3 separate regions of the Homo sapiens genome follow, and regions 1 and 3 are each linked to region 2. Evidence: fine-mapped expression QTL. A gene starts in region 2. Each other region holds a variant in brackets. All regions are shown on one strand. Distances are from middle to middle. Region 1 overlaps CRK (CRK proto-oncogene, adaptor protein). Region 2 holds the start of CRK (CRK proto-oncogene, adaptor protein). Region 3 overlaps CRK (CRK proto-oncogene, adaptor protein).

Region 1 (2,845 bases), 34 kb after region 2:
ATTGCTTTCATTGTATGGAGCATGACCAGCGTGTGACTCATTCTGACATTTCAGATCCTAAGAATTCTAAGAACACTACTAGAAGCATTTGTTCCCTCCTAGTCAATGCTTCATACTTTTTCTTGGGATTCTTTTAGCCCTTGACATTCTTGTCCCCCAAACCTGTAAGTAGGTGAATTCCTAAGATAAGTGTGTATTTTCATTCCAGGTGAAAAGCAGGATGTACCGAGCACTTTATTCAGTGCATAGCTTTAAGCCAGTGTTGGATTCACTAAGTGGACAGCCAGTCTCCCAGCTCTCTGCCTTCCCCAAAAGGGTCGTAGTAGGTCACCCTTCTACAGCAGCTAACTAGAGTCCTAACTAATGGGATCCAGCAGGGCCATTTCTCCAGAGGGCCAGTATCCTATTAGGAGACTCTTGGAATTCTTAGGTTCTACTCAAGAGTGGAAGGACCAATCACCTCTGATATTCTGTGGAAGGTTTTGGGGTCAAATTCTGCCCTCTGCATTCTGTGCAACTTGTATAAAAGTCAAGTTAGTATTACATGAATTTGGGGTAGGGTTAGTGCTTTGAAAAAATGTTGAACCGGCTGGGCGCGGTGGCTCACGTCTGTAATCCCAGCACTTTGGGAGGCCGAGGCGGGTGGATCATGAGGTCAGGAGTTCGAGACCAGCCTGGCCAACATAGTGAAACCCCATCTCTGCTAAAGATATAAAAAATTAGCCCGGCGTGGTGGTGCACGCCTGTAATCCCAGCTACTCGGGAGGCTGAGGCAGGAGAATTGCTTCAACCTGGGAGGTGGAGGCTGCAGTGAGCCGAGATCGCACCACTGCGTTCCAGCCTGAGCGACAGGGCAAGACTCAGTCTCAAAAAAAAAAAAAAGGAAAAAAAAAAGAAAAAAAAATGTTGAACCAATTGTGAATTACTTATGTATTATTCATTTCTCATGGGGAGAGTAATGCTGTTGAAGAACATTACATTGTAAACTGCCTTCATTTTTGGCTCTTTGTTTATGTTCAGGTTTAGTTTACAAACCCATTTAAGTATGGAATGATTTATATGGGGTCAGGTGCTCCACAAAATAGACCTATGAGACCAAAAATGACCTAGGCTATTTAGACGACAGCATGAAACTTCCACGTTAGTTCTCAGTCTATAAAGGCACTTACCGGTCTCTGGTGTGGTATGACCAATAGAAACACCTTATAGTTTGCTTTGGACCTCATTTTGGAAAAATAATCTGCCTTTCTAATTGTTCTGCATAGGTTAAAATGATAAATTTACATTCTTTGAACCTATACCAGATTGTGGTGTCCGAGTGACCGGCACACTGTCTGACACACAGTCAGTGTGCACGTATTTGTCTGAGTGAATGAGGAGACCTGAGAAACCGGTGACGTGGCACAGGGAAGCCAGCTGGCCCAGGATTCCGTACATGGCCGCAAGCAGACTAACGCGTTGACGCT[A/G]ATTTAATGTATTTTACCTCACACTAAGGTCATGCTTGATAAAGACGTTAAACTCAACTTGTAAAATGGTAGCCCAGTGCTATGCACAGAGTGGGTGCTCATTAGTGTTGAATGAACACATTTGTAATACTACATGTAATTCCATCTGACTGCTTTGTTAAATTTTCAGTTAGAACGTAGATACTGTAAAGTCCACACACACATTAAATCTTGTTTTCCTGAAAGTATGGCATCAAAAATACTTGTAGAAAAACCTTGTCACAACTGATTTGAATGTTCCTATTTTCTTTTCCTTTGACTTTGATATTGGCTTGTAATGTCTCTTTTCATCATATGTAATATCAGTGGAACAGGCAGCGCTACTCAAGTCCTAAGGATTCCTCAGTGATCAGTGATCCAGGGCCGTTCATGAACCACTGGGCTGGATTTGACTGTTGAGTGTGGCAGTTAATGCCCCTCAAGAAATCAAAGGATGTCTTATAAGTGTCTTCCAAAAAAAAGCAAATGCTGAAATCCTATTGGCAAAGTAAACTGAAATTGGCTGCTATATTTTATATAATCATTTCTGCAAATCCCATTTTTTGAATACTAATATTTGACATGGTTAATTCTTATTAATTTGTTGGAATTGTTTATTGTTAATAATGCAAATAGATAATTTTTAATTATCCACAAGTAACATTTCACTGTTAATGGTTTGAAATAGGTGATAAGCAAACCAATTTGAAATAAAATATAAACATGTGCCATTGTATTATAACACTATACACTTTCTTGACAGTTAAATTTAAAAAAAAATTTTTTTTGGTAGCATGTATTGTATATGTTTATAGTATATGTAGTAAATAAAAATATGGCCAAATGTTTGGCTTGGTGATCTTTTGCAAAAAAGTAATCTTTGAATATTTTTCACAAAAGAACTAAATCTTTTTTTTTTTTTGAGACAGAGTTTCGCTCTTGTGACCTAAGCTGGGGTGCAGTGATGCGATCTCGGCTCACTGCAACTTCCGCCTCCCACGTTCAAGCAATTCTCCTACCTCTGCCTCCCGAGTAGCTGGGGTTACAGGCATGCACCACCACGCCCAGCTAATTTACTGTATTTTTAGTAGAAATGGGGTTTCACCATGTTAGCCAGGCTGGTCTCAAATTCCTGACCTCGGGTGATCCGCCTGCCTCCGCCTCCTAAAGTGCTGGGATTACAGGCTTCAGCCACCACCGCACCCAGCGAGAGGTAAATCTTTATGCTTAGGGGATAGGAGGTATGTGCCTTCAGCAGCCTGCAGTCATATAATTAGATAAACAATTATACAAGCTCAGTGGGTGCTTATTAAAGATGGGATTAGGCCGGGTGTGGTGGCTCATGCCTGTAATCCCAGCAC
Region 2 (2,500 bases):
TGGGAAGCCCTCCTGGATTACTCCATAGACTGGCTGTGGGGGCTCTGCTCTGTGTTCATGTCCGTTTCCCATGATAGCGTTTGTCAGCATTTGTCATCCTTTTGTCATCCAGTTTCCTGGTTCCTCTCACTGGTCTGTGAGTTCGAGGAGTGCAGGGCCCAGCCATGATAACCTTTGCACCCGCAGTGCAAGTGGAGTGTCAACAACAATGTCCTAGGTGAATCAATGAAAATGAGAACGTCAGCTGGTCTGTGGAGAAGCTAGAGGAACGAGCAGAAACGGACCGACGTGGCCGGGCGCGATGTTTCTCGCCTGTAATCCCAGCACTTTGGGAGGCCGAGGCGGGCGGATCACCTGAGGTCAGGAGATTGAGACCATCCTGGCCGACATGGTGAAACCCCCGTCTCTACTAAAAATACAAAAAACAGCCGGGCGCGGTGGCTCACGCCTGTAGTCTCAGCTACTCGGGAGGCTGACGCAGGAGAATCGCTTGAACCCGGGAGCAGTGAGCCGAGATCGCGCCATTGCACTCCAGCGTGGGCGACAGAACAAGACTCCGTCTCAAAAAGAAAAAGAAAAAAGAAACAGACTGATATCGCAGGAAGCCTGGCCGAGAACTCAGGCCCCAGGGCCACACGCATCTTTTCTCCTCCAATTCTGTCTGGGAGTCGCTGCCTAGAAGTCCCAGGTCGTCCAGGAACCGGGGCCCAGACGAGAAGCACCGCTCTGTCCGCAGCGCAGGCGCGCGTCTCTGCGGGAGGCTGCGAGGCCCCGCCCCTCGGGCCCTAGACCCCGCCTCCCATCCCCCGCAGCCCGGGCCCGGGAAGGGCGGCACCGCCCATGAATCCGCATGCGCAGTGCGCGCGCGAGGGCGCCTTGCCCTTCTCCCAATGGCGGGCCGCGGGCCCCTTCCCGGCAGCCTCCCTCGGGCAGGGAGCGCGTCATTTCCGGAGGGGGAGGCCCGCGGCTGCCGCCGCCATTTCGGGCGCTGCTGTGAAGCTGAAACCGGAGCCGGTCCGCTGGGCGGCGGGCGCCGGGGGCCGGAGGGGCGCGCGCGGCGGCGGCACCCCAGCGTTTAGGCGCGGAGGCAGCCATGGCGGGCAACTTCGACTCGGAGGAGCGGAGTAGCTGGTACTGGGGGAGGTTGAGTCGGCAGGAGGCGGTGGCGCTGCTGCAGGGCCAGCGGCACGGGGTGTTCCTGGTGCGGGACTCGAGCACCAGCCCCGGGGACTATGTGCTCAGCGTCTCAGAGAACTCGCGCGTCTCCCACTACATCATCAACAGCAGCGGCCCGCGCCCGCCGGTGCCACCGTCGCCCGCCCAGCCTCCGCCCGGTGAGGGACTGACGGGACGGCGGGCCCTGGGCGGGGTGAGGGCCGCGGAACTCCCAGCCTGGCTGGCTGGTCCTCGAGAGCGGACCCTCGGGGGTCGTGGGCAGAGGGCTGGGTGACCGTGGCAGGGGCCCGCCGGCTGCTCGGGCTCGCTCTCACCCGGGGAGCAGGAGTGTGGGGGAGGAGGAGCCGCGGACCGAGGCCCCGGGGTGTGCCTGGGGAGGGCAGCCGCGGGGAAGGGGAACTGCTTCGGCCCCAGGGTGGGGCTGGCTCCCGGGCCAGGCGCAAGGGTAGGGCAGGGCAAGGCAACGTGGGGACAAAGAGCTGAGGGAGATGTTGGCACTGCGGGGGCATCACTTGGCAGCGGCGCCCAGAATGAATCCGATAATCCTACAAGTGGCTTTTAGGCTGGAAACGTTTCCTGCCGTGTTGGAGAGCCGGGTTTGGCCGTGCTCCCCTGGTGGCCTTTGGTAGGAAGTCACCACATACTGGCCGGGAGGGATGGAGACACCCTCAGGAAACCGGTCAATTTTTTCCTTTCTTGGGCATTTTTCCAAAATCTTTGTACCGTTCTCTTCCCCCGTGGAGGACGAAGGTGGTGAACTAAGTGCTAGAAGAAATAGTGGTAGCAGAAAGCCTTCAGTGACCAGCCCAACCCAGTTTAAGGCGATGCCTGGCTATGTGCAAGAGATCTAAGCGTCCAGAAGACTGTCCGCCGTTAGAGAGTTCTGGTTTTCAAAGTGTTTAGTGGAGGAAAGACATTTTATTCCACAAAATAAACCAGAAGTGAGGCAATGGAAACAGACCCTTCCCTGTAAGTGACTGGAACTTCATTTTCCTTGGACTTAAACATTGTCGGTGTGTACTTCAGGGCGTCACCTTGCTCAGTAAGATGGGGCTGCGGGCTGAGTCTTCCTGGATATTGGGAACAGACTCTACGCCAAGAACATAAATTACCTGCGCTGGGTTTTCCTTGCCAGGGAGGGATCCCTGAGATTGACTGTCTTACCGATGCCGTTGGAGTTGATTTGGGACTGTTTTAAGGGAATAGATAGATGCCCTTAGTACTGGAGATTTGTGAGGTACAAAGTAATTCTGGGGTTCTCATTGTATGTGTACCTGTGTAACAGCATCAGGAGTCCTCGTGCCTTCACGCTGTTGCCAAGTCG
Region 3 (2,849 bases), 24 kb after region 2:
TTTTCTAGGTGTTTTGTGGATTGTGGTTCTTTAGGATATAGTCTTAAGTCCACCATTCTACTTGATAGCAAACTCTGTTTAAATACCTCAATCTTATATTGTCTTTGTTCTTCTTTTCTTTTTTTTTTTTTTTTGAGACGGAGTCTCGCTTTGTTGCCCAGGCTGGAGTGCAGTGGCGTGATCTCGGCGCACTGCAAGCTCCGCCTCCTGGGCTCATGCCATTCTCCTGCCTCAGCCCCCCAAGTAGCTGGGACTACAGGCGCCCGCCACCACGCCTGGCTAATTTTTTATATTTTTAGTAGAGATGAGGTTTCACCGTGTTAGCCAGGATGGTCTCGACCTCCTGACCTCGTGATCCACCTGCCTTCGCCTCCCAAAGTGCTGGGATTACAGGCGTGAGCCACCGCGCCTGGCCTTTTTTTTTTTTTTTTTTTAAGACAAGGTCTCACTCTGTCACCCAGGCTGGAGTACAGTGGCGTGATCTCACTCTGCCTCCTGGGTTCAAGTGATTCTCGTGCCTCAACCTCCCGGGTAGCTGGGATTACAGGCATCCACCACCACGCCTGGCTAATTTTTTTATTTTTAGTAGAGATGGGATTTCGCCACATTGGCCAGGCTAGTCTCAAACTCCTGGCCTCAAGCGATCCGCCTGCCTCAGCCTCCCAAAGTGCTGGGATTATAGGCATGAGCCACCCCGCCTGGCCTATGTTGTCTTTATTCTTAAACATTCAGAGTGCAGTCTCAAATCCCATCCCACAGAGCTGTAAGAAGCTCCTAAGAATGTGTTACAGGATGAGGAGGCTGAGGACCAGCCTGGACAGTAAAACAGTTCCTCTGTGGTGAGACTCATCAGTCTCTTTGCTGTAGTGAGGTCTCCCTCTTGGAAAGAAAGGTTAACTACCTTGTAGTACTTCAAGTCCTGTATGAAGTCTTTGTTGTTCATTGGTAATTCATATTAGGATTTTTCTTTCCTATTTATAACTTGAATTTTGAAATCAGTAGTGTTAGAACTACTGTTATTACTACATTCACTGATTAGTACATTCCTTTGTATTGTCAGATTGTAACAGTTCTGGGGCAAGCACTCGGTTTCACCTTTGTATTTGAAGTAGTACACCCTAGTCTGGTCAACATGGTGAAACCCATCATTACAAGAATTAGCCAAGTGTGGTGCACATGCCTGTAGTCCCAGATACTCTAGTGACTGAGATGGGAGGATGGCTTCAGCCTGGGAGGTCAAGGCTGGAGTGAGCTATGATTGCGCTACTGCAGTCCAGGCTAGGCGACAGAGTGAGACTCTGCCTCAAAAAAAACTAGTACACCAAGTTTCTTTTTTTTTTCTTTTGTATTTTTAGTAGAGATGGGGTTTCACTGTGTTAGCCAGGATGGTCTCGATCTCCTGACCTCGTGACCCACTCCCCTCTGCCTCCCAAAGTGCTGAGATTACAGGCGTGAGCCACCGCCCCGGTATGATACCCCTCACCTTCCCTGATCTGATCTTTGGGAATTATGCTTTAGTGAATTAACAGGTGGAAGCACAGTTCTGACTTTGTTTCTGAATTGGAGGAAGAACTGCATTTACTGGAGCAAAATGTTCTTAGAATGCCCCACCCCCTCCG[G/C]CCTTCTTCCTCTGCCCTCCTCCAGCCAGAGTCAGCAGCCACTCCTTCCTCCAGACTGTTAAAGACCTAAGGCCACATGTGGCACCACAGGAAGACCTGGTCTCTAAATATCATCATAGTGCCTTTGGGACCTCAGGAGCATTTTCATGTGCTCTAAACGTTTCAGGAGAAAGGCCCCAAAAAGCACAAAGGGTTAATTTGTTTGTTTGTTTGTTTGTTTGTTTTGAGACGGAGTCTCACTCTGTCGCCCAGGCTGGAGTGCAGTGCGTGATCTCGGCTCACTGCGAGCTCCGCCTCCAGGGTTCACGCTATTCTCCTGCCTCAGCCTCCCTAGCAGCTGGGACTACAGGCGCCTGCTACCACGCCCGGTTAATTTTTTTGTATTTTTAGTAGAGACGGGGTTTCACCGTGTTAGCCAGGATGGTCTCGATCTGCTGACCTCGTGATCCACCCACCTCGGCCTCCCAAAGTGCTGGGATTACAGGCATGAGCCACAGCGCCCGGCCATAGGGTTAATTTTAACAAGGTCTTCCTTGAGGTATTTTTACTTCAAAGCCACGTTGGTCAGGTTAATTAGCCCAATTGATTGCTTACAAATTTTCTTTATCCGTTTAAAAATCAGAATCAGGCTGGGTGTGGTGGCTCACGCCTGTAATCCCAGCACTTTGGGAGGCCAAGGCGGGCGGATCACGAGGTCAGGAAATGGAGACCATCCTGGCTAATACTGTGAAATCCCATCTCTACTAAAAAAAAAAAAAATACAAAAAATTAGCCGGACGTGGTGGCGGGCATCTGTAGTCCCAGGTACTCGGGAGGCTGAGGCAGGAGAATGGCGTGAACCCGGGAGGCGGAGCTTGCAGTGAGCCAAGATCGCGCCACTGCACTCCAGCCTGGGCGACAGAGCGAGACTCTGTCTCAAAAAATAATACTAATAATCAGAATGAGCCCAGGTACAGTGGTTCACGCCTGTAATCCCAGCACTTTGGGAGGTCGAGGTGGGTGAACTCTTCACCTGAGGTCAGGAATTCGAGACCAGCCTGACTAACATTTTGAAACTCCATTTCTATGAAAAAGACAAAATTAGCCAGGCGTGGGGGCACACGCCTGTAATCCCAACTACGTGGGAGGCTGAGGCAGGAGAATCACTTGAACCCGGGAGGTGGAGGTTGCAGTGAGCTGAGATTGTGCCACTGCACTCCAGCCTGGGCAACAAAAGCGAAACTCTGTCTT

The links. PIP is the estimated chance that this variant, and not a neighbour inherited with it, causes the effect.
Region 1: its variant is fine-mapped to the expression of CRK in whole blood (TOPMed, PIP above 0.99).
Region 3: its variant is fine-mapped to the expression of CRK in whole blood (TOPMed, PIP 0.93).

What each region holds. Positions count from the first base shown.
Region 1 is chr17:1,420,205-1,423,049 of GRCh38, reverse strand. CRK (CRK proto-oncogene, adaptor protein) reads left to right here. Exons shown (of 3, transcript NM_016823.4): 3 at 1-2,357. Among named protein-coding and RNA genes, the nearest start is that of CRK-AS1, 3.0 kb to the left of the region's middle. The variant A/G (reference allele first, on the strand shown) is at 1,467.
Region 2 is chr17:1,454,711-1,457,210 of GRCh38, reverse strand. CRK (CRK proto-oncogene, adaptor protein) reads left to right here and starts at 979. Exons shown (of 3, transcript NM_016823.4): 1 at 979-1,334. The coding sequence starts at 1,094. RefSeq lists silencers at 671-1,170, 1,261-1,320, 1,431-1,560 and an enhancer at 825-1,810.
Region 3 is chr17:1,430,062-1,432,910 of GRCh38, reverse strand. The region is part of intron 2 of CRK (CRK proto-oncogene, adaptor protein); the gene reads left to right. Among named protein-coding and RNA genes, the nearest start is that of CRK-AS1, 6.9 kb to the right of the region's middle. RefSeq lists enhancers at 1-360, 361-861. The variant G/C (reference allele first, on the strand shown) is at 1,620.